Regions from separate parts of the Homo sapiens genome. Here region 2 is linked to region 1. The links come from fine-mapping of genetic effects on gene expression. A gene starts in region 1. The other region holds a variant in brackets. All regions are shown on one strand. Distances are from middle to middle. Region 1 holds the start of MRC1 (mannose receptor C-type 1). Region 2 overlaps MRC1 (mannose receptor C-type 1).

Region 1 (16,729 bases):
GCCTCAGCCTCCTCAGGAGCTGGGACTATAGGCATGTGCCACCACACACCCAGCTAATTTTTGTATTTTTAGTAGAGATGAGGTTTCACCATGTTGGCCAGGCTGGTCTCGAACTCCTGATCTCAAGTGATCCACCTGCCCCGGCCTCCCAAAGTGCTGGGATTACAGGCATGAGCCACCGCGCCTGGCCTGGATTTTTTTTAAGCATTTTTAAAATTATGCCGCAACATTGAACAAGTCATTAAATTCCCAAGCCTACTAGCAAAGAAAATTTGGTTATTAAAGGTGATTGTTCAGGGAGATAAGTATGATATGCTACATTTTCTTATACATTTTTAGATTTTCCTGACTATCAGCAAATAAAATGCTGACATTGGAACACAAAAGACAATAACTTCTGGAAGACAGAGAAGCCAGATAAGAGGAAAAGCAGCAAGTAGCTGTAGCAGATGCCTCCAGATTTATACTATTTCTCCTCGGCCTTCGCTGTTTAGGTGCATGCAGGCCCCACTCCCAAACGCCAGCACCACGCCTTTTGCCCTGGGGGCTTTTTCTGGCTATCAGAGCCCTCTAGGCTCAAACATGGCACAAATTAGATGGGTCAGAAAACGAATGCCCTGTAGGAGGAAGCCTTCATCAGAGGCCAAGGAGAACCGCTGACGGCTCTAAATCTCTTGTACCTTGGATGTGATGAGTCCAAGGCAACCATTCCACACCGTCGCCCAGAGCTCCTACACTCCATTGCCCACAGCGGTCACTGGGTGTCCACACACCTTCCCTTTCTGTCTCACTTCCCCGTTACCCTGTCAGTGTTTCCTGGGCTCACTTCCCAAATAAACTAACTTGCCCTCAAACCAGAGTGCAATTGTCTGAGGACAGCTTCTTGGGGAATCCAAACTAAGAAATATGTTCACCAGCCTCAGTTAAATAAATGTACCTATGTTTTCCCCAAAGACCCCAAATTCAGTGAAAAACAAATATTTACCCTGCACCTAGTACATTCAAGAAGCTATGCCAGGTGCTGGGGGCTGATGGAGGGTGTTAGTCAGTCTTAGGCTTAGAAATGTTGAACAGGAGGCCAAGGCAGGCGGATCACCTGAGGTCAGGAGTTCGAGATCAGCCTGGCCAACATGGTGGAACCGCGTCTCTACTAAAAATACAAAAATTAGCCTATGTGGTCGCACATGCCCGTAATCCCAGCTATGGGGGGCTGAGGCAGGAGAATCTCTTGAACCCACAAGGCGGAGGTTGCAGTGAGCCAAGATCGTGCCACTGCACTGTAGCCTGGGCGACAGAGTGAGACACCATCTCAAAAAAAAAAAGAAAAGAAAAAGAAATGAAATGTTGAACAAAAGAAAAAAAAACAGAGAATTACTTCATTTGTCACTTTGATCCTTCATTCAGACCCAAAATATTCAGGGAAACTACTGATTTAGGTCATTGCAACTGGCCATTTGGAAAAGTACATAATATGAACCCAGTATGGGTCTGACCACAAGGACAAAACAGAGGCCAAGAAACTCTTCCAACTTCCCTCCTACCACCTTAAAGATATGAATATCTACACCTTCCCGGGGCCATTCGCTCCCAAGTCAGTAGAAGAGGCTTCCTTCCTCCTGCTGACCGCCCTACCTGTGTCCTGGACTGTGAACCCTCCTACTTCTCCACAGCTAGTTTCTGCTCTCACTCCTATTTCTTCAGCCTCTGAATGCCAGCCTCCCCAGATCCCCCTTAAGATAAATAAACAAAACCCTTTACTAGGTAAGAAGCTGACACCACACTGCTCTTTCTTCTTCCATGCATAGCCCCACTAATTCGTTCACCTTATGTATGTATCATGTCAATCTGATCATGACATAATCAGAGCTCTAGGATTTGGCTCCCAGGTAACAGACTCCGCTGCTCGCTGACTGTGTGACCTTGGCCAAGTTCAACATTACTCTGTGCTTCCACTTCCCCATCTGTAAAATAAAGGGGGAAATAGCAGGACCTCCTCATTGTCGTGAGAATGAAATGAGATCATCTAAATAAAGTGCTTAGAAGAGTTCCTGACACAGGAATTGCTTAATATATATTCATTATTATTATTGTTAACTTGGCAAAATCAGTCGTACAGACAGTGTGAGATGTTTCAGAATAAGATGAAATGAAAGAGCAGAGAACTGTTGCAGCAGTGCAGAAAGAGGGACCGGCCAGGCACGGTGGCTCCCGCCTGTAATCCCGGCACTTTGGGAGGGCAAGGCAGGAGGGATCACCTGAGGTCAGGAGTTCGAGATCAGCCTGGTGAGCATGACCAAATCCCGTCTCTACTAAAAATACAAAAATTAGCCTGGCAGGGTGGTGCACGCCTATAATCCCTGGAGAATCACTTGAACCCAGGAAGCAGAGGTTGCGGTGAGCCGAGATGGCGCCACTGCACTCCAGCCTGGGCGACAGAGCGAGACTCTGTCTCAAAAAAAAAAAAAAAAAAAAAAAAAAGAGGGACGGAAGGACCGAGAACACGGAACTGCAGGGTTTCTAGCCTCAGGGGATGTGGTGTGGAGGGTTATCTTCTTTGGGGTTGATAGGCTTGCAATCAAATCCTGGTTCCACCATTTTTTAGCTGTGATGCCTTAGTGCTATTAGCCATTCTAGCCTCTACTTCCTCATCTGTAAAATGGGGACAATAATGCTGTCTGGTAAAGCTACCGTGAATTTCTAAATGAGATCATTTATGTAAAGCACCCAGCATATTATCTGCATCTAATACACACTTGATAAATATTAATTCCTTCCTTTCCCCCTCTTGAAGTGAAAAGTCTAAAAAAATTGATACAGATAAAGGGATCTAAGTCCTTCTTCTAACATAGTGTTATTTTGAACCACATTATATCTTTCCTGATCAACACACTCCAGGTAGTAAATTTATCTACTTCTTAGCCTCAGAGTCTAAAGATCATAATGAAGAGTTAGCTCTGGTCTTTACTGACTACCTGACTTCTGCAAGCCACTGAATCTTCAGAGCTTCAACTTTCTCACATAGGGAAAGGTGCACAATGACATCTTCCCATCTGCTTTATGGGAAGCTATGGGTCCCTGAGGTCTAAGTTTCTACTACAGTTATTCATGTGCAATATTTGTAGATTAAACCAAAAGCTGCACAACTGTCAAAACCTAAGGTTGAGCATGGTGGCTCATGCCTGTAATCCCAGCACTTTGGGAGGCCGAGGTGAGCAAATCACTTGAGCCTAGGAGTTTGAGACCAGCCTGGACAACATGGCAAAACCCCATCTCTACAAAAAAACACAAAAGTTAGCCAGGCATGGTGGCATGCACCTGTGGTGCCAGCTACTTAGGAGGCTGAGGTGGGAGAATCACTTGACCCCGGGAAGTCAAGGCTACAGTGAGCAATGATCATGCCACTGCACTCCAGCCTGGATGACAGAGTGAGACCCTGTCTCAAAAAAAAAAAAAAATATATATATATATATATAATGTGTGTGTGTGTGTGTGTATATATATATATGTATATATTTATATATATAAAATCTAGCCCTATGTTCCAAAGCATAAAAGTTAGCTCAGCCTTCTAGATACAAACACTGAGAAAGATGGAGAACAAATTTAAAAAGGAGAAAGGTGCTTGTATTTTTCTCCCACTTAATTCAGTTTTGTGAAAAAATACACTGAAGAATCAATATTTACCATAAGACATACATTTATATTGGAATCAAAGTTTTCAAGAGTGCTTGTGAAAAACCACTACTGTGATAATCACATGATAATAATTATCTTTCTTAGCATTTCAACGAGGGAAATGAAATAGAGGAGTATCAGGATTATACCATTAGCGTGATGTCTATGTCAGAACCACAGTTGGATCCCTTCCAGCCAAATGTGAGACCCGCAAATGGCAACAGGAATAACCTAATTTGCACTTACTTGATCTAACAGCGCAGCAAGAAATCTAAGGGGATGTGGAAAAGTACAAGCCGTTGAGCAAAGTCCTGGATCTACATCTACCTGCTAAACAGTCACCTTCTGGACATTTTACCTCCCTGAGCCTGGTGCTTCATCTATAAAATGATGATGTCAAAATGCATCATTTCCTAGTTTGTTCTTGCTTTAATGGTCTATGATTCTAAGGCTTCTCTGTCCACCAAGACGTCTCTCATTATCATTTTTTGCAGATGTTCTAGGCTTTTCATGATACTACCTGACCCACTGTTTGAGCGCCTTCCCAGAGCCTAGAAAGGCTCCATATTGCCCTGGGACCAATAGCAGCAGCTAGCAAGAGCCTATTGTTGGCCAGGTGTGGTGGCTCATGCCTGTAATGTCAGCACTTTGGGAGGCTAAGGTGGGCAGATCACGAGGTCAGGAGTTCAAGACCAGCCTGGCCAACATGGTGAAACCCCATCTCTACTAAAAATAGAAAAAATTAGCCGGGTGTGGTGGCGGGTGCCTGTAATCCCAGCTACTCGGGAGGCTGAGGCAGGAGAATTGCTTGAACCCACGAGGCAGAGGTTGCAGTGAGCCAAGATCACACCATTGCACTCAAGGCTGGGTGACAGAGAGAGACTCCATCTCAAAAAAAAAAAAAAAAAAAAAAGCCTACTGTTGGCATCTCTTCCCAACTCTGCCCCCAGGGGCATCAAGTCAGTAGCTTGAAATCAACCATGGTGGGAATATTTACAGCATGGACATCAGTAAACAGCAAAACAGCATAAGTCAAATCAGTGCTTCCTTTCTTTTCCTTCTTGGAACCAGTAGTTGTTTGCCAATACACCACTACCTGTGAGCCAAACCCTCCCATTTCCAAGTTAAACTTCTTTGCTGTGGTCTAACCTCTGTGTCCCACCGGCTCTCATGGTGCATCTACCATGATTATAACCCAACTGAGCTGGAAACCTTGCTGCTGAGTGCTAAAAAGATAGTGCGGCAAGAACAACAGTAGGAAAGGTGAGCGTCTAGCCCTGTTAACCTCTAGACTCCTGGACCCCTCCAGGGAGAACCAGCCCATCCGTTGGCAGCAGCCCACAGAGACTTATGGTGCTAATGCTGTGGGATGCTCTCCTGAAGGTGGAAGGAAGGGGTGTGGATTGAAAAGAAATAAACTGATGGCAAGTAGGGAGACCTTCCCATGGGTTTTCCTAGTGGGCAGGAAGCCAGGGGAGAGGTGTTGGGGCTTCGCATAGTTTAACCTGCTGCTAACTAAGCAGGTGCCCTGCCTTTACACAAATTCCTCCAATCACATGCTTCTCGGGCCAAGAAAAGATAAAATAAAAGTTACAGGCTGGGTGCAGTGGCTCACATCTATCATCCTGCACTATGGGAGGCCAAAGTGGGAGGATCACCAGAGCCCAGAAGTTTGAGATCGGCCTGAGCAAGATAGTGAGACCCCATCTCTACAAAAATAAAAAAAAATAAAAAAAATTAAAAATTAGCCTGGCATAGTGGCTCAAGCCCAAAGTCCCAGCTACTGGGGAGTTGGGAGTGGGCCAAGGTGGGAGGATTGCATGAGCCCAGATGTCAAGGCTGCAGTGAGCCATGATCACACCACTGCACTCCAGCCTGGGTGACAGAGTGAAACCAGTCTCAAAAAACAAAACAACACAAATTACAGGCTTTCACGTAGGAAAAAAAAATCTGGAAGGGGGGTCCCTTGAATTTTTTGTTTGTTTATTCTCCAAGTAAACAGATCTTCAGCATCCCCCTTCTCTCCCCAATATTTGTGCCTATGAAGAGGAAGACATTAGTCAGAGGAGGGCATCCTGCTGTCAGGAAGAGGGAAACACTCCTGAGCAAACCGAGAAACACTATTGCTCAAAGCATTATTGAGTCAGTTTAAAGAAAATTAGGCACTGTGTCTGTGCTGCCCAGTATGATAGCCAGTCACCTCATGTAACCATTGTACACTTAAAATGACACTACTGTGAATTGAGACATGCTATAAGTATGCAATACTCACCAGATTTTGAAGAGTTAGTTTTAAGAAATGAATGGGAAAATATTCCAAATCGATTAAATGTTGAGGGATAATATTTCCGAGTTACTGGGTGAAATAAAATACATTAATAATATCAGGGCTGGGCGCTGTGGCTCATGCCTATAATCCCAGCACTTTGGGAGGCTGAGGAGGGCAGATCACTTGAGGTCAGGAGTTCGAGGCCAGCCTGGCCAACATGGTGAAACGTTGTCTCTACTAAAACTACAAAAATCAGCTGGGCATGGTGGTGCATGCCTGTAATCCCAGCTACTTGGGAGGCCGAGGCAGGAGAATCACTCGAACCCAGGAAGTAGAGGTTGCAGTGAGCCAAGATCATGCCACTGCACTGCAGCCTGGGCAACAAAATGAGAATCTGTCTCAAAAATAAAAATAAAATTAATTTCATCTATCCTTTTTATTTGGCCTTTTATGTACTTCTTTTCTGCCACTGATTTTAATAGCTAACACTTATAAGGCACTTACTATGGGTCATACTCTGTTCTAAACATTTCACATATTGTTACTCATTGAATCATCACAAGAACTGATGGGGGCAGGTAATATTATTCTTTCCATTTTATAGACATGGAAACTAAAGCACAAAGAAATAAAGTAGCCTGCCCAAGGTCGCAAAGCTAGTGAGTGAGAGAGACAGGATGTAAACCATACCGCCTTCACTTGTGTTTTTGTAATCACTACCACTCAATACTTATGATTTAACATTTGCGGTACTAAAACACTCTCTTCCTAGGAAACTTCCCACCCGCCTTCACATCAGTGCATAGAGTAGATCGTAGGCACAAACCATTCTCTGCAAGTGTTTGTTGATTTCATAGAATTAAAGGGGGATCAGAAATCAAAAAATCAAATTTGAAATCTCTTCTAAATCATCTCCAAATAGAACCAGGAATGAAAATCCCCCGAGGCACTCCCATCCTGAAGTTTAAGCAACTGAGTATAGAGAAATAGAAAAGACAGACTGGAAAAGGTATTTGAGAATTTGAACAACTCTGGAGCTGTTCCTAATGAGTAATCTCTAATCTCCAGAAAAAGAAGAAAAACAGGAATCGATCTGCTTATGCGGCAGTTTGAATAGTCTAGAATACAGATAAGGATGAACTTTCTAACAATCAAGTGTCTGAATGATTCTGGCAGAAAAAAAAATGAGTATGGAAATTGCTTAGAATCTCTTTTGGGGGGATGATCTGCGATGATACCCTCGGACCTAAGACGCGGGGAGACATCAGGGCTGCCCTCCTTCCAGCCAGAGACACTCAGAAGGTGTTTGTTGGCGGTGAGACAGAAATAGTGTGAATTGAAAACCAGAAAGAGTAAACCACAGAGCAGGAAATTTCTGCACGAAGAAAACAGGGAAGGAACAACGAGCGATGAGAGAAGTCAGGAGGACACTGAAGGTCTGTAGGGTTCCCGGCAGGGCAGCAACCGAGACCTGAGACGCATCCTCCTCCCTCCTCCAACTCCAGGCCTCCCATGCCTGGCCGCCAGGTGAAGGCAGCAGGCTTAGCCGTGGACTGCGTGGTGCAGGGGAACCCCGTTTCCTCCTCACAAAGATGTTGAAAGGAACCCATTCACAGTAACCCAGAAGAGGAAGGTGTGGTTCCGGCCCCCCAGGTCAGAGATCCCCTGCCTCAGAGCAGACTTACCCAGTAGGAGAACAGCACCCGGAATGACAGAGGCAAAAACCAGGAGCAGGGGTAGCCTCATGGCCCAGGGTTTATCCTTTCCTTCTCCTGATGGACAGGAGGGCGGAACTAAGACGCAAAACAACGAGGCCCCCCAACTGCCTCTCCACCTAATCCAAGTTCCCAGAGCTGCCCAGCTGAAAAGAACTACAGAGGAAGCCCTCCCTTTTAAAGGGCTCCTGAATTTAGGGAAAGCCTCTACTGAGGAGACATCCTGTCACATGAGGGTGGCTGGAAAAACAGGAATTCAAAGTAACAACTTTGCTTCGTAAGCTAACTTCTGAGAAGAGCAGACGCAGAGGAAGGGGAGAAAGGGACACGTGTGGGAGAGGAGTGGCGGGGTGGGGAGGAGAGAGGGCGATGGTGATGGTGAGGAGTCAGGAAGGAGAGAAGTGAAACAGCCTGGGAGCTCCCGGCCTGCTCAGATGGGGCTGGGTGGAGATCAAGCTGCAGGCCATTACCTGTGCCGGAAGACGGAGCTTCCCCTGGGAAGCAGCTGAGTCAGGGGTCCCTCAGCAGACAACCTCCACTCTGAAGTGACAGCCACACGGGCCCTGGAAAGGACAGTTTTACGCTGGAAACACTTCAGAGTTGAAGCTCATCCCCTTCAGTTTCCACATTCAGTGCTTAGAGCCTTTCTTTTTTTTCTTGGAAAGTTTCAACAGAAAGTTCCGTGGAGCTTCATTTCCTCCAGGCAGAAGAAAAGTGAAAAGGAGGCTACACCTAAGAGGGAATGTCAGTCAGGCCAGGAAGGAGAAAGTTCTAGAAACCTTTTGCTAGAACGTTCTCTAGAAAGCCAGAAAAAACAGTGGTAAAGGATTTGCAGTAAAGCCTTGCTGCCCAGCCTCAACCATCCCGGTCCTCTTCAAGTTTAAGTGGGTCCCCTTGCTAGAAAAAGAAAATCTGGCCAGGCACAATGGCTCACGCCTGCAATCCCAGCAGTTTGGGAGGCCGAGGCAGTCAGATCACCCGAGGTCAGGAGTTTGAAACCAGCCTGGTCAACATGGCAAAAACCCGTCTCTACTAAAAATACAAAAGTTAGCCGGGTGTGATCATGCACACCTGTAAGCCCAGCTACTCAGGAGGCTGAGGCAACAGAATCGTTTGAACCTGGGAAGTGGAAGTTACAGTGAGTCAGGATCGCACCACTACACTCCAGCCTGGGCGACAGACGCGAAACTCCATCTCAAAAAAAAAAAAGAAAAGAAAAAAAAGAAAAAGAAAATCTGATTGTTTGGTCAAAAGGTATATCTTTATTTAAAGGCAAGTGGAATTCTTTCTTAGAATAAAATATGTTTCTAGATCTTTCATTAAGCAGAAAATAACCCTCCAAACATTTATGTTGTCATTTTTCAAAAGTAGAACAGGAATTTAGAACATTTTAAAGCAGAAACTAACGATTAGCTGGCCAAACCGTTACTAGAGTGTGGAATATGTTAGTAATTCAAAAAGAAGCTACTGGAAACATTGTAATTTTTAAAATTTTTTAAATGAATAGTTTTATCTTCAAACGGAAAGCCTCCACATTCGTTGTCTTTGTGATAAAGTTGAAAAGTTTCCATCCTATTAGAAATGTGATGTAGTTCTCTTACTGATTGTTTTTAACATGTAAATTTGAGATTATCCTGACCGGAGGGAAAAAGATAGTGAAAATGTAGGACAGAGGACCAAAGTTTCTTTGTCACTAAGGCTGTACATGACTGAAAAAAAAAATGATGGTTATAGAACAGAACAGACAAAACAAAAATGTTTCTCAGACATTGTTTCACTGGCTTATGAAAATAATAGTTTAAATGGGTCATTTGTGGCTTTCAAATATAAATAAATCATATACAAAAGTGACTGCCTAATTTACATTTATATATATTTCAGAAGCAAATACATTTAATTGAATTATGTATATAATCACATTCAGGGTTGGTTTGTTTCTTTGAGACAGAGTCTTGCTCTGTCGCCCAGGCTGGAGTGCAGTGGTGCAATCTGGGCTCACTGCAACCTCCACCTCCCGGGTTCAAGCGATTCTCCTACCTCAGCCTCCCAAGTGGCTGGGATTACAGGCGCGTGCCATGATGCCCAGCTATTTTTTGCATTTTTAGTATAGACGGGGTTTCACCATGTTGGCCAGGCTGGTCTCAAACCCCTGACCTCAAGTGATCCGCCCGCCTTGGCCTCTGAAAGTGCTGGGATTACAGACGTGTGCCACCATACCTGGCCCAGGGTTTGTTTTTTAATTACATAAGTGTGTATATCACATTAGTAAAATTAAAAATTAGGATCAGTACTAAAATCTGTGAAGTTTAAACAAAATGCAGCCAACCACCCCACAAAGAATTTACCCCATGACCTTGACCTCGTTGAAACAAAGATTTATCAGGCTACAAGAGGCCACTGGGGCAAAAAATAAATCCAAATCTTGGGGAAGGGATGTCACAGAAGATGGTGGTGTGGGAAACTCCAGGAATTCATCCCTCCATCTAAGCAGCCATCAAATGGACAGGAACTGACTGAAGTAACTGCAGGTGCTCCTCTACTCATGATCAAATTAGGCCCTGTTAAACCCAATGTGAGTTGAAATATGCTAAGTCAAAAATGCACTTAATACACCTGACCTACCAAACATCACGGCTCAGCGTAGCCTACCTTAAACGTGTTGAGAACACTTACATTAGCTTCCAACTGGGCAAAATTGATAGGGACAGGAGGCAGAGAAGTGCTAGGTAGAGAAGGGCAGGATCCCTGGCGAGGGCTCCACCCTCGGACCTGTGCCCACGGACCTAAGTGGGAACAGGCACTCCTGTTTTCATGCGCAAATGTTACATTTCCAAGACCACTATGATTCACCACACCCCGCATCCTGTGCCCATAAAAACCTGAGACCTTAATGGGCATAGACACAAGCGCTAAACATTGAGAAGAGTGAAGGAATAGAGCAGTGGAGAGCAGTGGGGTGGCGCAGCAGAGAAAGAGAGAAGAAGGACATCTGGACACCAAGGGGAGTTTGGCCAGCAGTGGTTGGAGAATAGTCTGGGGGGTTAGGCAGCCTGGCTCCAGGGGAAGACCACCTTCCCACTCCACTCCCCACTTCCAGTTCCCCATCCATCTCGCTGAGAGCCACCTACACCACTCAATAAAACCTTGCACTCAACCCTCCAGCCCACATGTGATCTGATTCTTCCAGTACACTGGGCAAGAACTCAGGCTGTCACACTGCCTCCCTGTCCTTGTGATAAGGCAGAGGGTCTATTGAGCTGACTAACACAAGCTGTCTGCAGATGGTATAGCTGAAAGAGCACACTGTAACACACGCCCACTTGGGCTTCAGGAGTCCTAGATGCTGCCGTGGGGTGGAGCCCAAAAGCACTCCCCACAGCCTCTGCACCTGCCCATCTGCATGCTGCATGCTCCCCCCTAGGGGTTTGAGCAGCAGGGCACCAAAGGAGCAAGCCTCATTCCTGTCGCACCCCCTGCGAGGGTCATAAGGGAACTCTTCTATTTCAAAATCATCTAACAAAACCTATTTTATAATACAGTGTTGAGTATCTCGTAATTTATTGGATATGGTACTAAAAGTGAGAAGCAGAATGGGTGTATGGGTATTCGAAATACATTTTCTACTGAATGCACCATTTCTATTTCACATCATCATAAAGTGGGTAAATCATTATGTCTAACAATCCTAAGTCAAGGACCATCTGTATTTGGGAACTAGTCTAGTCAGAAACTTGGAGCATCCAAGGGAGAGCTTGATAAAGAGGCTGGTACATTTCAGCGAATTTCAGCTTCTCCCTGTGGTTATGGCTGTGTCAGGCAGCTGTGAAGGGGGAAGCAGCCCACACGCCCAGTGCAGCTAGGTGAGGCCAGGCCGGGCAACAAGGATTTAGCCCTCCAAATGTCAGGACTGTGTGTTCTGATTGGTGCTTTTATTTGCTTTCATCACTTCTCTTCAACTTAGTACTGGAAGTTCTAATAAGAGCATGTAGGAAAGAAAAAAATAAATAAAAGCATCCAAATTAAAAAGGAAGAAGTGAAATTATCTCTGTACACAGATGGCCTGATTTTAAATGTAGGAAGTCCTAAAGCTTACACACACACACACACACACACACCACACACAAATACCACATACACATACACAATAGACACATACACACCACACACACACACCACACACACATACATACACACGCCACACACACACACATACACACCACACACACAAACTGTAGCACTAACAAATTTAACAAAGTTGCAGGACACAAAATCAAAACACAAAAATCAGTTGAATTTTGATACACTTGTAATGAACAATCTGAAAATAAAATTAAGAAAATTCCATTTGCAATAGAATCAAAAAGAACAAAATACTTAGGAATAAATTTAACTACGTAGACAAAAGACTTGTCCACTGAAAACTACAAATGGTTGCTGAAAGAAAAAGACCTAAATAAATGAAAAGATACCCTGTGTTCATGAAATGGAAGACTTGATATTGTTAAGATGTCAATATTATCCAATATAATCTATAGATTCATGCAATCCCTATCAAAATCCCAATGATTTTTTTTTTTTGCAGAAATGAAAAACCCCATCCTAAAGTTCATATGGAATTTCATGGGAGTCTGCACAGCCAAAACAATTTTGAAAAAGAATGAAGTTGAACGATTCACACTTCCTGATTTCAAATCATACTACAAAATGACAGTAATCTAAACAGTGTGGTACAGGCATAAGGATAGCCATATAGGCCAATGGAATACAATAGAGAGGCCAGAAATAAACCTATGTGGGCAGTTGATTTCCAACAAGGTGCCAAAAGCATTCAATGAGGAAAGAACAGCATTTGTGCTGGGAAAACTGGCCATCCACAGGAAAGAGAATGAAATTGGACTCTTACCTTACATTAAATACAAAAATTAACCCAAAGTGGATCAAATGCCTAAACATAAGAGCTAAAAACTATAAAACTCTTAGAAGAAAACGTCAGGAAATAAAATCTTCACAACATTGGATTTGACAATGATTTCTTGGATTGGATACCAAAAACACAAGCAATAAAAAAGTAGATAAAAAGGCCTTTATCACAGTTAAAAACTGTGTCCACCAAAGTACACTATCTAGAAAGTGAAAAGACAGCACAAAATAGAAAATATCTGTAAATCACATATCTGATTAAGGGATGAATATCCAGAATATATTAACAACTACAACTCAATAACCACAACAAAACCAAATACAAAATGGTCGGTGGACCTGAACAGATAATTCTCCAAAGAAGATATACAAGTGGCCAATAAGCTAAGCACATGTAAAGATGCTCAACATCATTAGTCATTAGGGAAATGTAAATCAAAACTACAATGAAATAGAATTTCACACCCAAAAGAATTATTACTTTAAAAAAACAGAAAATAACAAGTGATGGTGAGAATATGAGAAATTGGAACCCTCGGGCATTGCTGGCGGGAATGTAAAATGGTGTAGCCACTGCGGAAAACAGCTTGGCAATGCCTCACAAAGTTACACTATAATTATCATACGATCCAGCAATTCTACTTCTAGGTATATACCCAGAAGAACTGAAATTAGGGACTCAAACACATATTTGTACAACAATGTTCAAAGAAGTTTTACTTATGATAGCCAAAAAGTAGAAGCAACTCAGGTGTCTGTTAGCAGATAAACAAATGTGGTATGAACATACAGTGGGATATTATAGAGCCGTAAAAAGGAATCCTGATACCTGCTATATGTACAACCTTTCAACATTTTGCTAAGTGAAATAAGCCAAACATAAACGGACAAATATTATGTGATTCCACTTATGTGAGGTATATAGAATAGGTAAATTCAGAGACATAGGAAGAAGAGAGTTTACTAAGGGGTGGGAGGTGGAGGATGGAGGAGAATGGAGAGTTATTGTTTAATGGGCACAGAGCCCATTGGATGTTGGATGATGAAAAGTTCTGGAAATACAGAGTGGTGATAGTTAAACAACATGGTGAATATGTTTAGAGCCATTGAATTGTACAGTTGAAATGACTACAATAATAATTGTGTTATGTATCCTTTACCAAACTTTTTTAAAAATCCAACTCATGCCATCCTGTCTACACCCTTCTACTAAGTTCTGGTTCTGAATTTTGGTTAGCTATTGATGATGGTGGTTATTTTTAACTAGTCCTTTCTTCAAGCTAAAATATAAAGGAAATTCTCATTTTTTTATTGGCAAGACAATCAACTGTGTCATTTCCTCCTAGACTTTCTCAAACACCAGCCACCTCCTACCCACTCAGTTTCACGTATGATGAACTTAGTGTCTGCTTTGCTCTGAAATAGTTCCAAGAAAAATAGCTGGGCAAAATTTTTCATAACCTGTTACATCATTTCTCACAGATAAAACTGGTAAGCCCTTCAGAAATGGTGTTTTCAGTAAGCCTATCTTTTAATGAACAAATTTATTCAACTCTTATCAACATAATTCCTACCAGCCAAAAGAAAAAAAAGATATTTTTGAGTAAAAATTTAAAAATTTAGATGTTCTTATACCTCATATTTTTCAGTCCTTACCAAAACCATAGCAAAACATCAACAATGCATTTACAGTTTAATAGAAAACTACTATATCATAGCAATCCAATTTCTTTGCATTCAATTACTTACATAAAATTAGGCTTTAATTGTAACTGTCTTCAGATAACATATTTAGACTTATTGTAATCAACAGTGTGTAGATTCATAGTATTTGAAGGACCTTTGAATTTTGTATTTCTATAACCAATACTTTGTTTCATTTGGTTTTGTCTTGGCACACATCGTTTTAATATACTAAATTTTACAAAGTAATTTAATTAAAAGGCTATTTGACCCATTTAATTTTTGAAACAAATTTTTTTTTTTTGAGATGGAGTGTCGCTCTGTCACTCAGGCTGGAGGGCAGTGGCGCAGTCTCAGCTCACTACAAGCTCCGCCTCCTGGGTTCACGTCATTCTCCAGCCTCAGCCTCCCCAGTAACTGGGACTACAGGCACCCGCCACTACGCCTGGCTAATTTTTTGTATTTTTAGTAGAGATGGGATTTCACCGTGTTAGACAGCATGCAGGATGGTCTCGATCTACTGACCTCGTGATCCACCCGCCTCGGCCTCTCAAAGTGCTGGCGTGAGCCACTGCGCCCGGCAGAAACAAATTTTAAGAATAAGATTAAACATGTGTTTATAATCTGAAAGTGACCTATACTTTACAGATGGAAACCAAGACACAACAATGTTGGGCTGGTTCTTCAGAACAACACTTACTATGTAAGATTATGTATAATTTTTAGCAATTTGAAACGCAAATTTTCTATTTATTCACTCAAATATTCTGAACACCTCTAAGGTATCTGAGTTAAATATTTAAAAGAAAAAAGTTTTGTAGAGAAAGAAGGCATTCCTTAAAAATCCATTATTTCCATTTCAATATAAGAATAATTACAAGTTAAAATAAAAAATAATCTTATTAAAAATAGGCATATCTTGGGAAATTAAGATGTGTGTATATATAAATGCACACTTTCACAGCAAGTGTTACTTTAGTAAATATTATCCTCAAATTCATATAAAACCATACCTAGTCTATAACAGGCACTCAAATTTGTCAAATGACAAATTAATGAAATTTCCAAAAAATAATCTTCAGGATATGGTAATATATGTAAAAGCTCTTGTAAATAATTGTTAATACAAATATCTCAGGTTACTAAAGCTATTAATCACTAGTACTCAGGGATGTAGAGGTTGTGCATTGTTCAACCTGAAGGGGCGCTGTATGATTTAGAATTCATTAATTAATCTCACCTGTAAACATTGGAAACACCTTTCGAATGCAGTTGGATCTGGTTCTCAGTGTCTCTGTGTGGGCAGGTGTACATGGCTCTCTGTTTCTCTATTTTTTCACCTTCTGACTCTACTGTTTGTGTGTTTGGATTCGATTACTACAGAGCACAGAAGGTGGATGTGAGACAGACAACCAGGAAGCTGAACATTGTATAAGAGCTGTGACGGTTAATATTCAGTGTCCACTTGATCGGATTGAAGAATACAAAGTATTGTTCCTGGGTGTGTCTGTGAGGGTGTCGCCAAAGGAGATTAACATTTGAGTCAGTGAATGGGGAGAGGCAGACCCACCCTCAATCTGGGAGGGTACCATCTCATCAGCTGCCAGCACAGCTAGGATAAAAGCAGGCAGAGGAACGTGGAAGGACTAGACTTGCTGAGTCTTCTGGCCTCCATCCTTCTCCTGTGCTGGATGCTTCCTTCCCTCCAACATTGGACTCCATGTTCTTCAGCTTTTGGACTCTTGGACCTACACCAGTGGTTTGCCAGGGGCCCTCGGGCCTTTGGCCACAGACTGAAGACTGCACTGTCGGCTTCCGTATTTTTGAGGTTTTGAGACTCGGACTGGCTTCCTTGCTCCTCAGCCTGCAGATGGCCTACTGTGGGACTTCACCTTGTGATCGTGTGAGTCAATACTCCTTAATACACTCCCTTTCATATATACATCTATCCTATTAGTTCTGTCCCTCTAGAGGACTGACTAATACAAATGCATCCTCTCATAATGAAACAGCCATCACAAGAGATTTGTTTAAACATAGAATTTTAATTAACATGTAAAAACAGCCCCATTGTAAAACAAAATGTCTTTAGCCATTTCATTTTTTTCTTCTATTATTTACTATATCTTCTATGGAGTATAAGTAGCCATTTTTAAGTTTTGTAGCTTCTAAGTGGTATATTGCTCTTTTTGTGAACAACTATTGATATATTCACTATGTAAGGCCCTGCTCCAAGGTACACAGCACAAGGCAATTATGTATTAGGCAAACAGCATAGTGCCCAGAACATAGTAGGACTTCAGCAAGCAATTTCATTTCCCTTTTCTTTCCTATGCCTCATTGCAATTGTCATTCAGTGAAATGGGGCCCTAATAAGAAAAACAAGACGAGATAACATTTACACATTGTAATTTCAAACATTAACTTTTAGAAAGAAAAGGCACTAAAAAGTGTATTACAGGTATTA
Region 2 (16,729 bases), 24 kb before region 1:
TACTGTTGAGAAACCTCTAATGAATTTTTATGCTAGTATGGAATATCATAAGCTGTAACTGAGATAGTATTTTTAAGCCGATGTTATTAAATCAAAAACAGGAAAAGTGGGTGTTAATGTAGATGTTAAAATCACTGTCACAAGGACAGCAATATTGCAAATACCTCATGACTCAAGGTACAGTCATAAAAAATCTCTCCAACCCAAAATAATTTCAATCCACTTGTCAAACTTTACAAAGAGATGTTGGCTAATCCTCTCAAGGATGTTGACAAAGTCAATGCAACAGCAAGTATATAGTAACAATGCAAGTAGCATATTTAGTAAATCATGTTTAAGAGTAGCCACAACATCTGCTTTTGAATATAGTACCCAACACATCAGGGATACTCTGAGAACTGAAACTTTAAACAGAGACCTTTATTGTTTTGTGTGAGAATCCTGGCAGACAAATCCCTATCCCAGGAAGCTGGTATAACCTTACAATTCAGTAAATGGAAATCTAGCATAGATTTCAAAACAAGGTGAAATGAACTGTATTTGATGAAGTCTCCCAATTCTTCTCTTTGAGATCAACAGGTGAGATAATAAACGTCTTCGGGGCGTCTAGATGACTTAAATTTGGATTAATTCGACACAAACAGGCTTAACCCTACCTGGTAACCAGTTCAAATATCGGAAAGGACTGCGGTCACTCCACTGCCAACCGCTGTTGAAGCTCAGACTGTTAAGTCCAATCCAGAGTCCTGAGGTCAAGGAACTGGTTAATCCTATATTTTTAAAGAAAGCAAAACAAACAAACAAGAACTTGGCATTCAGAAAACAGTTGAAATTAAATTCAGAACTAAGTGCTTGAATCAAAATGTCACTGAGGGAAGTAACAATAATCATGCCTACCATGTCTCCTTTGATTCTCCTGACAACCTAAGGCAAGTAAAATTATTACCTTCACTGATAGGTGGGGAAACGGAGGCAGAGGCAGCATAGGTAATCTGGTAAGATTTTTAAAGTTCCAACCCAGATCTAATGAGGCTTCAAACCCCATCATCTTGACTATTATCTACTTTCTCAAGGATAGTGTAAAGTCTTCTTGTGTGAATATGAATAGGTGTTACCTCCACTGCATATTTCAAACCTTATTCTAAGAATTTTATTTTATCATTTTTTAAAGTCAATTTCTCTTCTTCGTTAACATGATGATTAAATACTAATCACTAAGTGCTTATGCTAACACCAAGGATGCTTTGCTTAAGCAGTGAAGAAATCAAAAATACAATGTTTCCAATTCTGTTCTAGGACTGATGTGGAAGTCATAAAACCAGAAACAACACGGACCTCAGCTCTTCAGCGGTAAACACTCTAACCTATTATTACCGCTCTTTTTTTTTTTTTTTTTTGAGTTGGAGTCTTGCACTGTCGCCCAGGCTGGAGTTCAGTGGCTCAATCTCCACTCACTGCAACCTCCTCCTCTCGGGTTCAAGCGATTCTCCTGCCTCAGCCTCTCGAGTAGCTGGGATTACAGGTGACCGCCACCACGCCTGGCTAATTTTTTTTTTTTGTATTTTTAGGAGGGATGACATTTCACTATGTTGGCCAGGCTGGTCTCAAACTCCTGACCTCAGGTGATCCGCCCACCTCAGACTCCCAATATGCTGGGATTACAGGCGTGAGCCACCATACCCTGCCACCTCTATCTTTTTTGAAACCATCAATGAGAATTCTCTGTTCTGAGTTATTTTAATTGATCAAAAGCAATTAATTAAAATAAAAACTATCCTTTGGCTTTTAAAAACATTTTTTAAATTTATTTTTATTTTTTAGAGATGGAGTCTCACTATGGTGCTCAGGTTGCTCTCCAACTCCTGGGTCCAAGCGTTCCTCCTACCTCAGTCTCCTAAATAGCTGGGACTACAGGGTACACACCACTGTACTCAACAACCTTCAAAAAAATTCTTTAAAAGAATTTTCACAAATTCTTTAAAGTTGTACTAACTTAAATATAATTATCTTTCTACTTGCACAGACGTATTCTACAGGACATGCTCCTAAAAGTAGCATTTTAATACTAGCTATTCCCAAAACCAATTTACTCAGGGATTTTAAAAAACTTAATTACGAAAATAAGTGTATTTAAGTTTTAAAAATTATAAATAATTCGCTGATTAAAGAAGAACTGAAGTAGATATTGAGACTGCGTAACTAAATTACTATGTTTGGCATCATGAGAAATGATAATAGCTCTTTAAGAGAATTACCTTTTGACATCTTTTACCAGCTCTAAGTACTTATAAACTTGTCTTGAAGAACTGAATTAGTTAATACTTTTTAAAACAAGGCCTGACATATGGTATATGCCCCATAAATATAAGTTACTACTGTTATTATTACCATTATTATTATTATTATCAATAGCTTCATATTAAGGTTGGCAAAGGTGTGACTTAGAAGCAAAATTCAAATCTTGGGTTAAAATATATCTCTTAAAGCAGATGGGTGTTGTCCACAAATAATTTTCTCTAATATGCTTTTGTAATTTTATAAAAGAGCAGACCAAAATATTTTAGTATTGCTGCACAAAGCAACAATTCCACATGCTAAATTTTTGTTGTTTGTTTTGTTTCCAGACACCAACTCAAACCAGAAATTTTTTTTGTACAGTTGGGGTCTTACTGTAGTGCCCAGGCTGATCTCGAACTCCTGAACTCTAACAATCCTCCCACCTCAGCCTCCCAAGGCTCTGGGGTTACAGGCGTGAGCCACTGCGCCCAGCCTCACATGCTCAAGGCGTAACTTTTCTGCATATATTGTCTGAAATGGTTATATACCAACTTTTGAACTTAGATGTAATAGAAGATACACAAATGTCCAATATTACACTGTTTTTTTTACTTTCTTTTTTTTTTTTTAATTGAGGTCCAATGTGTTTTTCAGGCAGTACCAAAGGAAACTGGTAAAAACCATCGGGGAAACAAGCCAAATTTCACTTCCTATATCTTATTTCAGTTCTGTAAATCCTCATCCTGCACATACGGAGCCACAAATCTGATTCAGGACTCAGAGACTCCATAGAGCGTCCCAACATTTTTCGGGGTAGAAACAGAAGGGAAGACGATAAAACAGCTGTGGGTAGTGTGCAAACGTGTTGCCAGGCAGAAACATTTCACCTGGCAGATAATATGAAATCAGATCACCACCAATCTGGAACACATTTACTGGAGCCAGGAAATGTTGACAAAATTAAGGGTTCTCATCAGTGCTTTGGGAACCAGCGGATCCCCGGGTGTTCTGTGCGTGAGACACAGGCAGGGTGAAATGGAAGACAGGGCTGAATTCCAGTTCAGCTGTTTTCTAAACAGGAGGCATTAAGCAAGTTTCCTAACTTCTCCCTCCTAGTCTGTTATCTCATCTATACAGTGGGGCTAATAATATTTATTCATGAGGTTGCTGTGGGCTTTAGAACTAAAGCCCAGAAACTAGTATGTAGTAGCTCTTCAGTAATTGGCAGACAATTTAATTAGAGTCATCAAACCAGGTTCTACATTTTTAAAAAATGATACTGACTGGCCGAGCATGGTGGCTCACGCCTGTAATCCCAGCACTTTGGTAGGCTGAGGCTGGTAGATCAGCTGAGCTCAGGAGTTCAAAACCATCCTGGGCAACATGGTGAAACCCTGTGTCTACTAAAATACAAAAAATTAGCCAGGCTTGGTGGCACATGCCTGTAGCCCCAGCTACTCAGGAGGCTGAGGCACGAGAATCACTTAAGTCCTAGTGCCACTGCACTCCAGCCCGGGCGACAGAGTGAGACTTTGTCTCAAAAAAAATAATAATAATAAATAAAATAAAATAAAATAAAATAAAAAGATACAGACTTTTCAAAACCCTCACATAAAAGAAAACTTATTTTAAAAGTGTAAATATTTTGTAGGTTGTTTTTTCATTTTAATGGCATATTTTCCAAAATAGAGTGGATTGCAATTACACACTCACACCACTGTTTTCTGGATTATTCCCCAATATATCTCAATCAACACTGAGTATCATCCCTTTCTTTCAAATAAACAGTGGGGAGGGAATATCTTTCCCCTATTTTTTAAATTCCCTGTCAGAGTTTTTCTTGTCCTAATGCCTGACATTTTTTACTTAAAGAAAGGCAGGAAGTACTACAAATCTCGTTAGAGATGCCATTCTTATCCAGATGCCAGTGAAAATTTGCTGACTGAAATTCCGGAGGCTTGGATAAGATTCAAGTAAGTATCTGAGGTGAACCCAGCCTCTGGATCTCCTGGGGCTTGTTTGCTGTCCTGATAGACACAAGAAAAGCCCTTGCTGATTAGGGAAGCATTTCCTGCAGCTCGAGTCCGATAGCAGAGTCCGGGAACCAGGAAATGAGTCTGTGCTTGGGCAAAGCCGCTGTCCGCTCAGATCACTTGCTCCTTCTCTGTAGCTGGTGGAGAGCGCACAAAGTAACCTGTGCTCTGTCCCCAGGCTTCCAAGAGATAACACACCCCACAAATAAATTCAAACACAAAAACCAAAAACACATCAACTGAAACCATTTCACCTCTGCACCTCTGATATATTTTCTTTCCTTTTTTTTTAAATTTTTATTTATTTATTTATTTTTGAGACGAGTTTCACTCTTGTTGCCCAGGCTGGAGTGCAATGGTGCGATCTCGACTCACTGCAACCTCCACCTCCCAGGTTCAAGCCATTCTCCTACCTCAGCCTCCCGAGTAGCTGGGAATACAGGAGCCTGCCACCGTGCCCAGCTAATTTTTTGTATTTTTAGTAGAGATGGGATTTCACCATGTTGGCCAAGCAGGTCTCAAACTCCTGACCTCAGGTGATCCACCCACCTCGGCCTCCCAAAGTGATGGGAATACAAGGGTGAGCCACTGTGCCCAGACCACCTCTGATACATTTTCTCTCGTGCCTGCAAGTCTGCCCAAATAACCACAAGACTGCCTCGAATCATCTTTTCTATTCCTTAATCATCTACATAAATTTACTTTTGTCTATTCTGTACTTTCTCCTCTTCCTCCTTATTTTTGTGCATGGTTGTAAATATGAATCACTCTGATCCTTTCTGTTCCACTATTAGAAGGGTCCCAAAGGCTAATGCAAAACAGAATAATTGAGCAGACAGAGGAAGAACCCTATCTCTAAGACTATGAATCCACAGTGACATCATATTGCTTTTCTATCCTCGGTCTCCTTAATAATAACTTATAGGAGAGATGTGTTCTGGTTGGTGACGGGTGTCATCTGAAAATAGCTGGAAAAAGGTAGGTGCTAAGAAATGAGGCAAGGTAGGGAGTGTGCTCTTGCCCTTGTATTGGCTCACACACATTAGCTCTTTTAACAGACAAGGTCACCAAAGCACAGGTGCCTCAGCAAATCCCCACAAGCTCCCCCAGTTTCACAGAGCTGGGACCTAGGCAGTCTGGCTGCAGAATCTTTGCTCTCAGCCTCTCTGCTCTGCTGCCTGGTGTTAGCACCTGGATACAGCAGGAACTAACACAGTGTTTTGCCAGATATGGTCTTTCAACCAGCTGCCCCAGAATCACCCAGGAGTTTGACAAAAGGCAGATTCTTGTGCCCTGTGTCACACCTACTGATCTAGAGTCTTCGGGATCTCAGCCCAGGCATCATCACTTTAACAGAATTCCAAGGTGATGAATAAGCCACTTCACACAGAAGAACCACTGCATTTACTGTCTTCTTGCCATGACTGTCTAGTTTTCCAAACAGGAGACTGAATTTCTAAGTATTTTTATTTTGTTGCATGTTAACATGTCAGTCAGCAAATGTTTGGTGAGACCCTTCCTTGGAAGGCTCTGTGTGAACCTCCTTGGGGGAAGAGGGGTCATAAATATTCACAAGACATTCCCCGTTTTCAGCTATTTCCCCCTCTGACGCGATCTCCACATGGCCTTCAGTTTGCTTTCCATGCAGGACTTATTATAATTGGTACCTATTCATTTGTTTGTTTTCTTGTTTACATCTGTTTCTTCCCATTGGACTTTTAAGCTGCATGTGGACAAGACAGGGTCAGCTTTGATGTCCCCAGGACCTAGCACAAAGCCTGGCACATGGGTACAAGATATCTTGGGAATGAATGAATAAGTAAATAAATAATAACAAATTAATGTATTTATAGTGTTGTCAAGGAAGCAGGACATATGTGTAAGTAGCTATTATACTAATAAAAGTGGTAATAAGCAAATAAGAGAAATGCAGATGGAAATAGAATTGCATTTCAACTGTACACAATCGTGAGAATTCCAGGCAAAAGAAATGACATGGGAAAAGATGTGAGGGTGAGAATGGATGAGGAAAAACAAGGAATCCAAGACTGACTTTTCTTTTGTTGTGACCGCAAAATGCAAGACCGGGAATAGTACAGATGTTCAGCAGGTGGCAATCTTGAATGTCAGGCAAAATGTATTTTGTTAATTATTTGATGGGAAATGAGAAGCCACAAGGGGTTTTTTGAACATGGCAGTCATAGGAGCAGAGACAGACTAATATTAATATAGCCGTGTCCAGAAAAACTGGAGGGAGGAGATTTTGGGGGCAAGAAATCGGGGATGCTTTTGCTCCCACACTAATTTCTGATCCTAATCTCTCTGTTTCCCCAAGTGTATATTTTAGAAGCTAAAACGGATACTCTCTTCTCAAGCAAACTTTAGCCCTTTTAGTCTTCACAATCTAATAAAAACAGATATTTTAAAAACAAACACATTGGCCAGGCACGGTGGCTCACGCCTGTAATCCCAGCACTTTGGGAGGCCAAGGCAGGTGGATCACCTGAGGCCAGGAGTTCATGACCAGCCTGTCCAACCTAGTGAAACCCCGTCTCTACTAAAAATACAAAAAATTAGCTGGGCATGGTGGCAAGCACCTGTAATCCCAGCTACGTGGGAGGCTGAGGCAGGAGAATCATGTGAACCCGGGAGGTGGAGGTTACAGTGAGCTGAGATTGCGTCATTGCACTCCAGTCTGGGCTACAAGAGGGAAACTCCGTCTCAAAACAAAACAAAACAACACAACACAAAACAAAACAACATCAAAACCAAACACATTGTGGAAAGAGTATCAATAAAACCTGAAAACTGGTAGAGCCTGGGGGTTCGAGGGACAGGAGGCTAAAAGAACTCAGGGTTTCAGGGTTTCAAAACAGCCTCTGACTTGTCTCTGCCAGTGGTAGCAGTCTTTTAATTTATCATTTTGACCTCTATGAGGCTAATGAAAGACCTGTGGCTTCAGGTTAGACCTGGATGATGGATACTTGACCAGGATTGTTCCACTGCCTTGCGTCCAAGAACGACATCATTAATCGATTGTGGCATCTTTTACTCTGATTCTAGATTAGCCCTCAGAATCCTTCTTAGCACTGGCTCTAGAGACTCTTAAAACCAATAGTTGGCACAGGAAATGAGAGCTATTTGCCATCCCTGGTGTCATTTTCAGAGTACAGATTTGTCATGACATCCACATAAACTGCTTAAGAATTGCTTCTGTCATAACATCTATAAACACTTGTGCTGTTGACTTCTAAGTTAAATTATATAAAAATAAAGCAGTCATGATTTTACTTGAGACTTTTCATGTCCTTACCTGTCAGGTATGTTTGCTCATGAATCTCTGTGATGCTCAGGAGCTCAGCGTTCTGTTGTTGGCAGCTTTTCCTCGCCTGGTGCCACGTTAAAGCGGATTTGGAGTTTATCTGGTAGGAAACGCTGGTCAGCGGGTCTTTATTCCATAAGCTTTCACTGCCCTCAACTGTGAAAGAAATCAGATGGAATTTGGTTCATTATGCATAGAAAACACTTCCAGTGAATAGTATTATTTAAACCACCTAGGAGCATTTTTGCCTGAAGCACTTTCTTTCTTTCCTTTCTTTTTTTCCCCCTTTCTACTTTTTTTTTTTTTTTTTGAGACAGAGTCTTGCTCTGTTGCCCAGGCTGGAGTGCAGTGCTGTGATTCTGGCTCACTGTACTCTCCAACTCTTGAGGTTAAACAATCTTCCCACCTCAGTTTACCGAGTAGCTGGGACTCCAGGCATGCACCACCATGCCTGGCTAACTTTTTAACTTTTTGCAGAAATGTAGTCTCTCTATGTGGCCCAGGCTAGTCTAAAACTCCTGTTCTCAAGCCATTCTCCTGCCTCAGCTTCCCAAAGTGCTGGGATTACAAAGGTGAGCTACTATGCCCGGACTGTTTTACTTGTTTTTAAGATGACTTTGAGATTTTCTTTACTCCTGAAATGAAATAGGAAGTAGGGGATGAGGTTTCAAAGGATCAGCTACATCCAGTCTTTTCCACATGCCTAAAGAAAGAAAGGCAGGCACGATTTCCCTTTCGGGATCAATTGAGTTGGGAAGTGAGACAAATATAAAGACAATAGACCTTGGATACTACAAAAGGTGGGAGGGTGGGAGGGTGAGGATTCAAAAATTATCCATTGGGTACAATGTTCACAGTTCGGGTACCCAGACTTTGCCATGATGCAATATATGCATGCAAGACATCTGCACATATACCCCCTACATATATAAAAATAAAAATAGCCGGGCACAGCGGCTCACGCCTGTAATCCTAGCACTTTGGGAGGCCGAGGCTGGCGGATCACAAGGTCAGGAGATGGAGATCATCTTGGCTAACACAGTGAAACCCCATCTCTATTAAAAATACAAAAAAAATTAGCCGGGCGTGGTGGCGGGCGCCTGTAGTCCCAGCTACTCGGGAGGCTGAGGCAGGAGAATGGCGTGAACCCGGGAGGCGGAGCTTGCAGTGAGCCGAGATCGCGTCACTGCACTCCAGCCTGGGCGACAGAGCGAGACTCCGTCTCAAAAACTAAATAAATAAAAATAAAACTTTTTTTGTTTGTTTTGTTTTGTTTGAGACAGAGTCTCGCTCTGTCGCCCAGGCTGGAGTGCAGTGGTGCAATCTCGGCTCACTGCAAGCTCCGCCTCCCGGGTTCACGCCATTCTCCTGCCTCAGCCTCCCCAGCAGCTGGGACGACAGGCACACGCCGCCACGCCCGGCTAATTTTTGTATTTTTAGTAGAGACGGGGTTTCAAGGTGTTAGCCAGGATGGTCTCGATCTCCTGACCTTGTGATCCACCCGCCTCGGCTTCCCAAAGTGAATAAAACATGTTTTAAAAGAACGGATACCAGCCCAAATTCCTTGATCTAGTAAAGTAAGGCAGGGGAAGCAAAGAAAATAAACGTACATCTTCTCAGCAGGTGGATATTTTGCCTTTGCCTGCACATTCTAGTTTGGTCTTTCTGGAAGCATAAGATTGTCAGCAGGGAAGGTCACGGACTCCTGCAGACAGACTGGCCTGGGCCTGCACCTGAGGTCCTATCGCTCACTGGAGACTTGACTTCAGATAAATTATTAACTTTTGAAGTCTCGTTTTCTCATTGCTAGAATATATTTAATACAGGTGGAGCGCTTAGCAATAGCAAATGTTGCTTGTAACTTTTTCATTCCACAGAGTAAAAAATCACAAGCTGATTTCTTCCTTTGCTATTTTATGATTCCTAATAAATTCCATAAACCTGGTTGTACTCTGTAAGCGGCCAATGATATACAAATAAATATTATTGATAGTTTTTCACATATATGATGTTTGCGAAGCTAGTAAACAAATGAAATATTTTGGCATGCTTCATGTAGTGAATATTTCTTTTTTCTTTTTAATAATATAAAATTCTGCTTACAAGCCATGTGAAGTAATGATCTTTTCATTTATTTGTAAGGAAAAAAGGAAGTATTATATAACTTCTCTGAAAATGTTCTGAGAAATACTCAATTTACTAAGAAATTAGGCAATTTTCCATAAGCACATAGCCTACACTCTTGTAACTCTTAACTGTATCTAATTGCCCTTTATATCTGATGAGGAAGCGATCATAGACCTTTTTGTAATATGCAAACCACACACCATGATATGAAACTTGTGGTCCCATGACATATCAAAGAGGAAGAAAACATATCAAAATTTGATTCAGGCAACAGCATACAAATTTTT[A/C]AGGTGCTTTAACTACAAAATCATTATATGCTTATATAAAAATAAATTTGAATCAGTAATGCTAAATTTAAATTATAATGATCTGAGGTGTTGCAAGTTTCATGTGTATGTCGGTGAGACCATTCAAATAAGACTAATTTGGGGTATATTTGAAGATAGAGATGTTTTAAACAACTCGTTTTAGACAACTGGAGGAAGGTTTTGTTTATAATATGGTAGAAAATGCGGGCGCCATGGCTCACGACTGCAATCCCAGCACTTTGGAGTCTGAGGTGGGCGGATCACAAGGTTAGGAGTTCGCGATCAGCCTGACCAACATGGTGAAACTCCGTCTCTACTAAAAATACAAAAAAAAAAAAAATTACCCAGGTATGGTGGCACGCGCCTGTAATCCCAGCTACTCAGGAGGCTGAGGCAGGAGAATCACTTGAACCCGGGAGGCAGAGGTTGCAGTGAGCCGAGATCATGCCACTGCACTCCAGCCTCAGTGACAGAGCAAGACTCTGTCTCCAAAAATATATATATATATATAGTAGAAAATGTGAGACATAAAAAAGGGTTTTGTTGTTGTTTTTAAACCTAGGAATGGAGGCAAGTGACATAAATGACGTAAGAAGGAAATGCAATTGACCTTTCACTTAAAGAAAGTACATTTTAAACCAAGGGATTTAAACATATTTCTCAATTAATGTTTAGGTTTGCTGATTGCATACCATCTCCCCAAGGAGTTCAAATTCCCACAGTAAACCAACACAACTGATGCTGGAAGCTAAACTTGCTACAGAGAACTGAGAGAACCAAGAATTTTCCTTTACCTGTTCTCACGATACTTGAAAATAAATGTCTACATGGAAGGAAAGCATTACAATAAACAATGCAACGGACAATGGAGAGCATCTACTAAGTGTTACTAGGTTAATAACTGGTTCCTCATCCTCCTGTATAAAACCTGCCACTTTTAAGGCTGATATAAAATAAAATGCTCGTCCGGGCACGGTGGCTCACACCTGTAATCCCAACACTTTGGGAGGCCGAGGTGGGTGGATCATTTGAGGTCAGGAGTTCGAGACCAGCCTGGGCAACATGGTGAAACCCCTTCTCTACTCAAAATACAAAAACTAGCCAGGCGTGATGGTGGGTGCCTGTAATCCCAGCTACTCAGGAGGCTGAGGCAGGAGAATCACTTGAGCCTGGGAGGCAGAGGTTGTGGTGAGCCAAGATCATGCTAATGCACTCCAGTCTGGATGACAGAGTGAGACCCTGTCTCAAAAATAAATAAATAAATAAATACAATAAAAACTCTTTTGAAAAGAACACAAAATGAAACAGACTGGAAGACTATAAAGCCCTTTAAGAAAGATATTAAATGTACAAAACGTGATTTAAAATTTTAATGCATATTGAAACCAAATCAATTTATTTTCTACGATTATTTTACATTTAACAGGAAAAAATATATAATTTGACAGTGAAGGCATAAATACAAGTAATAAGACTAAAAAATTATTCCACTGAACAAACTCAAGATACGTCTCCAACACACATCCAAGGATTTCCAAGATTGTGAGTTTTCTTTGTGATTAGTAACTTACCACTTGTCCTCCACATTTCATTCAGGAAATCACACATTCATCTAACTCCTTTGTCAATTTCAAAGGATGTGGAGGATGCTATAGTTGGACCCATGAAATATATACCCTTAAGAAAGTCCATGAAACAGATTAAGAAAATATCATTCCTATTAAGTAAAGGAGAAAGACACTTTCAATCACTTGAAAACCAAGTATTGCTTTATCTTAGAAAAAAATTGCTCAATGTGTTTCAGACAAAAATACTTCGAATACAAAATTCGACATCTAAAAACCTTGAATGGAAATCAAATGTCTTTCTAAAGATTGACATAAGAGAGACAAATAGAACTACCTCAGTTAAGACCGAGGCAGCAGTGTCGCTATGAACAGAAAGCCTATGGGCTTTTGTGAGTATTCATTCGGATTGGAGAGACTGCACTCTGAAGACAATTACAATAGTATATGGGGCTCAGAAATTAAATTTACTTTTAGTGTGATAATTAGGGATTATAAATCCAGAGAGATAAATAAGTACAATTCTTAGAATTCTGGCTTTTGTTCGTCAAATTCAGGTATTTTTTAAGTTGTTCTGTTTTACAATAATGCTTGAAATAGTGTGATTACTTGTGGATTTGTGGTCTGGAAAGTTGAGTTGTGATAGTCGTGATTCTATTGTTACTCAGGTGGTGTCACAATCATCCCAGACCATATCGAATGCTCTTTGCTCTGCCCAGTCCCTTTGCAGGGCAGCAGGAGAAAGAGTTCTGGGTGATAACCAGGAAACAAGAGCTACTCTGATCTGGTCTAAAGTAGCAGGTGAGAGGTCGGGGGTAAGAAGTTTGGGAAGGGTGGAGCCAGCATCAGGAGGAGGGTGTCTGGTGATGGGGAACGTGAAGCTAAGAGGAATACTTCCTTTTCCTTTTTCCTCAGCCCCAGCTCTGCCTTCAACATGACGCCCTCCTCCACTCCACCTAAAATGTGCTTCACTATTTGCCTACAGATTTTTAAGCGTGGAAGAACACCAAGAATTCATCTGTTCTGGTGCTTTCCCACTAAGATAATGCGATACTGCTTATTTTGCATCCTTGCAATAAAACCTGAATTTTCATTTTTAAGAAACCTTGAAGCATATAAATTACCGAGTTCCATTGATTTCTAGCTGTGTGAAACTAAATGGCACCCTTCTTAATTTAAACATAAGAAGAGTATCCTGACTATCATTTTCACTGTGAAGAACACTTTTGATGACATTGACACAAAATTCAGGACCTTCACGTCTTTCTCCATCAAACCACATGCTTGTGGCTTCCTTTGAATTCTGTTTTTGATCTATGGTTTCATAAAGGTAAGGCATTTCAGAGATGAGGGAATAATAGCATGCCTACCTACCTCCCGTGTTAAGTATATACTATATTGTGTACAGGATAATTTTCGCTGAGTAACTGATAGTTGGTAAAAATAAAGAGGTCATAGTCGGGCGCGCCGGCTCATGCCTGTAAACCCAACACTTTGGGAGGCGAGGTGGGCGGATCACGAGGTTAGCAGATCGAGACCATCCTGGCTAACACAGTGAAACCCCGTCTCTACTAAAAATACAAAAAATTAGCCAGGCGTGGTGGCGGGCGCCTGTAGTCCCAGCTACTCGGGAGGCTGAGGCAGGAGAAGGGCGTGAACTCGGGAGGCGGAGCTTGCAGTGAGTGGAGATCGCACCACCACACTCCAGCCTGGGAGACACAGCGAGACTCCGTCTCAAAAAATAAATAAATAAATAAAGAGGTCACTTGATGGAGGGAATGTTGGGACCATGGGGGTACAGTCTAGTCCTCTTAGCATGATCTCAGGGAATGCTGAGACAGTAGGGGTGACTCTAGTCTTACTGGCAAAATCAAAATACACATACAAAGCCTACAGTATAAAGTCCAACATCTGTGTTCTAGTCTTCAGCCAATATAGATCATTTTCTCCATTGGAAAATGGAAATAATAACGTCTGTAAAGGGCTGTAGTAGGTACAATGAGGTCGTAAATGTGAAATAACTTTGGGGAAAAATGCTCTAGATAAATTCAAGGTCTTTCACTACATTATCAGACTAAATGTGCCCAACTTTTCTTGGTGATAAACAGTACTTACATTTCAATGGACAATATCCAAATAGCTTGTCTGTGTCATAGTCAGTAGTGGTTCCGCACCAGAGCCATCCATCCGACCGCCCAGCACTCGTGCAATCTGCGTACCACTTGTTTTCAAACTTGAACGGGAATGCACAGGTTGCTCCATTGGCATTGCCTAGTAGCGTATACATGGCTGGAAAAACATATTGACTTGAACTTGGAATGTGAGTGATATTTCTGAACATTAACTTTCCAATAAGAAGCCTACTGAAGGAATTGGTCTTACTGTTCTGATTACACTTGATGCACCCACAGAGGGATTTCTTTTTTTTTTTTTTTTTTTTTTTTTTTTTTTTTTTTTTGGGTATTTTTTTTCCTTCTCCTTCTACCCTAGTCTTTTGCTGGGTACATAGAGCTGTCTGTACTTAGCAAATAACTCTTAGTACCACTTCATTTCCACTGCGTTTTGGGACATTTTCAAACGAGACTAATTTGTTAAGTTGTACCATTTGAAAATGTTCAAATGGTACAATTCAAAGTGGTACCAATGACAGTGGAAAATGAAGTGATACTAGTTAAAGTGGTAATAATAACTCATAGTACCACTTCATTTTCCACTGTCTTTTCCTCCTTCCTCTATTGACACCAGCTTTAACTTCTGAATTTCCTCTGAAACAGTTCTTTCTCTTGATTGGAATCATGGAGCTTTGGAATCTCTAGATTAAAAAAAACCTTAAAGCTGTATAGCCCAAACACATAGTCAATAATTAAATCCCCTCCAACCACTTCTTGTCAAGCCAGCCTTCACCTGAGTTCCTCAACAATGACCATAAGGAAGGATAGACATTTTGGCATTGTTCTCTAATCCCTATCATGAAAAGAAACCACTCAAAACTGTTATATACCATCTACAATCAAGGTTTTTCTTTTCAACAAGTTAAGGCCAACAGATTGAGTGGGAAGCTCTGGGTTCAACTAGAAATGTTAATTGAAACAAACACAGAATCATTGTTGATTATGGTTTGGCTTAAGCCAAAAAGGTTAAGGAAGCTCATCTCTCCACTAAGAACCAAACAATGCACATAGCTACATTGTCCAGTATGTTTAAAGTCTCCATCTTTGTAGAGATAACAACTTTTTACATTAAAGTATTTGACCTCTTGCCACCAACTGACATTCAGAATTTATCCTAGGTAGGAATTCATTACATTTTGCAGATTCTACGACTTGAAAAAGTTCTTAGCTTGTCTCACGCTTGCAATCCCAGCGCTTTGAGAGGCCAAGGCAGGCGGATCACTAGAGGTCAGGAATTGAGATCAGCCTGGCCAAAATGGTGAAACCCTGTCTCCACTAAAAATAGAAAAACTAGCTGGGCATGGTGGCAGGCACCTGTAATCCCAACTACTCAGGAGGCTGAGGCAGGAGAATCGCTTGAACCCGGGAGGCGGAGGTTGCTGTGAGCCGAGATCACGCCACTGTACTCCAGCCTGGGTGACAGAGTGAGACTCTGCGTCAAAAAATAAATCTTAAAAAAAAAGGAAGAAAAATTTCTTAAAAGACATTTAGTCATTTTGATAATATAAAGCTTGTAAAACATGTAGCGCATAGTAAGAGCACAATAATGTGAGTTATTGACCTCTTTTCTTTTTCCTTTACTCATTGTAATTATCAAGTCCTCTTTAAATATTAGGTTTATTTTTAATGACCTCAAAATTCCTTTTTTGTCAAAAAGGTAGTTGTTAATAACTTTAAAATGCGATTCCAGCTTTAGTTCCACTAAGTTATGGGAATGGTCTCCAAATCATATATTGTATTAGGAACACGCTGTATTCAGAAATAATTGCGCCATTCTTAGTCACTGGGATGACTGTTTCTTCGTACAAAGGAAACCAGTCAAGACCACCTTGGGGTTAGTTGTACTGGTCATCATTAGCCAAGAAATGTTCAGCGCTGGATTTACAGATGCCAATGACATATAGCTTTATTTACTTATTTTATTTTTGAGACAGGATCTCACTCTGTCACACAGGCTGCAGTAGGTGGCGCAATGATGGCTCACTGCAGCCTCAATTACCTGGGCTCAAGTAATGCTCCCACCTCAGCCTCCTGAATACCTCGGACTACAGGTGAACACCACAGTACCAAGCTTATTTTTACATTTTGTTTAGGTCTCACTAGGTTGCCCAAACTGGTCTTGAACTCCCGAAATCAAGTGATCCTCTTGCCTTAGCCTCCCAAGGTGCTGGGATTACAGGCGTGAGCCACCACGCCTGCCAGCTTTATTAACTAACTCTGTTTAATAACTACTGAGCCATTCTATACACCCAACACTGATGAGGCCAAAAGAACCCCAACTACCCCACTGACACATCATGTAACTGCAGTCAATTTGTCTTCTTCTTGGAGTCTGAACTTCCAAATAACCATCAAATCCATCTAAGTCTACAATTCTGGTTCCATTCTTCTAAAATAATTCCTATTTTCAAAAAGTTCCACCATTCTACCCCTCCCCCATGTTCTCATCAGAGATACAGAGACCCTACAATACATCCTCTCGACACTGTCTTCAGTTCTAATGTGTGTTCCCAATCTCGTGGTCACTCTGCAGAGCTAGAACTGAGGAGCAGGATCATCTTAAGTGCTGGGAGATCTTTGGGGAGTATGCAAAATGTAGTCAATAGACCCTATGCCACAGAATCACCCGGGTCTTCATAGAAATCATTGAATAGATTCCTGGGGTTTTTCCCAATATGTATATTAAGAATCTAGTAGAAGGGGGAGCTTAGGATCTATATTTTTAACAAACTTTCCAAGTGATTCTTAAGCATATTAAAGTTTGAGAACTATTAGCCCAAACCCTATGTATATTTGTCTCAAAACCAATGGGGAAACAGAAAGGGTAGGGGGTGAGGGAAGCATAATATTATATTTTAAAATAAAATAAAAATCCGATTTCTTAGCGCCAATCTTCCTCAAGTTAAACTCCTCAATTAGCACAATT

Evidence for each region.
Region 2: its variant is fine-mapped to the expression of MRC1 in whole blood (INTERVAL, PIP above 0.99).

Annotation. Positions count from the first base shown.
Region 1 is chr10:17,800,427-17,817,155 of GRCh38, reverse strand. It overlaps MRC1 (mannose receptor C-type 1), which reads right to left and starts at 7,808. Exons shown (of 30, transcript NM_002438.4): 1 at 7,630-7,808. The coding sequence starts at 7,690. It overlaps TMEM236 (transmembrane protein 236), which reads right to left. Exons shown (of 4, transcript NM_001098844.3): 4 at 16,288-16,729.
Region 2 is chr10:17,824,734-17,841,462 of GRCh38, reverse strand. MRC1 (mannose receptor C-type 1) reads right to left here. Exons shown (of 30, transcript NM_002438.4): 3 at 13,748-13,921; 4 at 7,624-7,788; 5 at 657-770. Among named protein-coding and RNA genes, the nearest start is that of MIR511, 12 kb to the left of the region's middle. The variant A/C (reference allele first, on the strand shown) is at 10,047.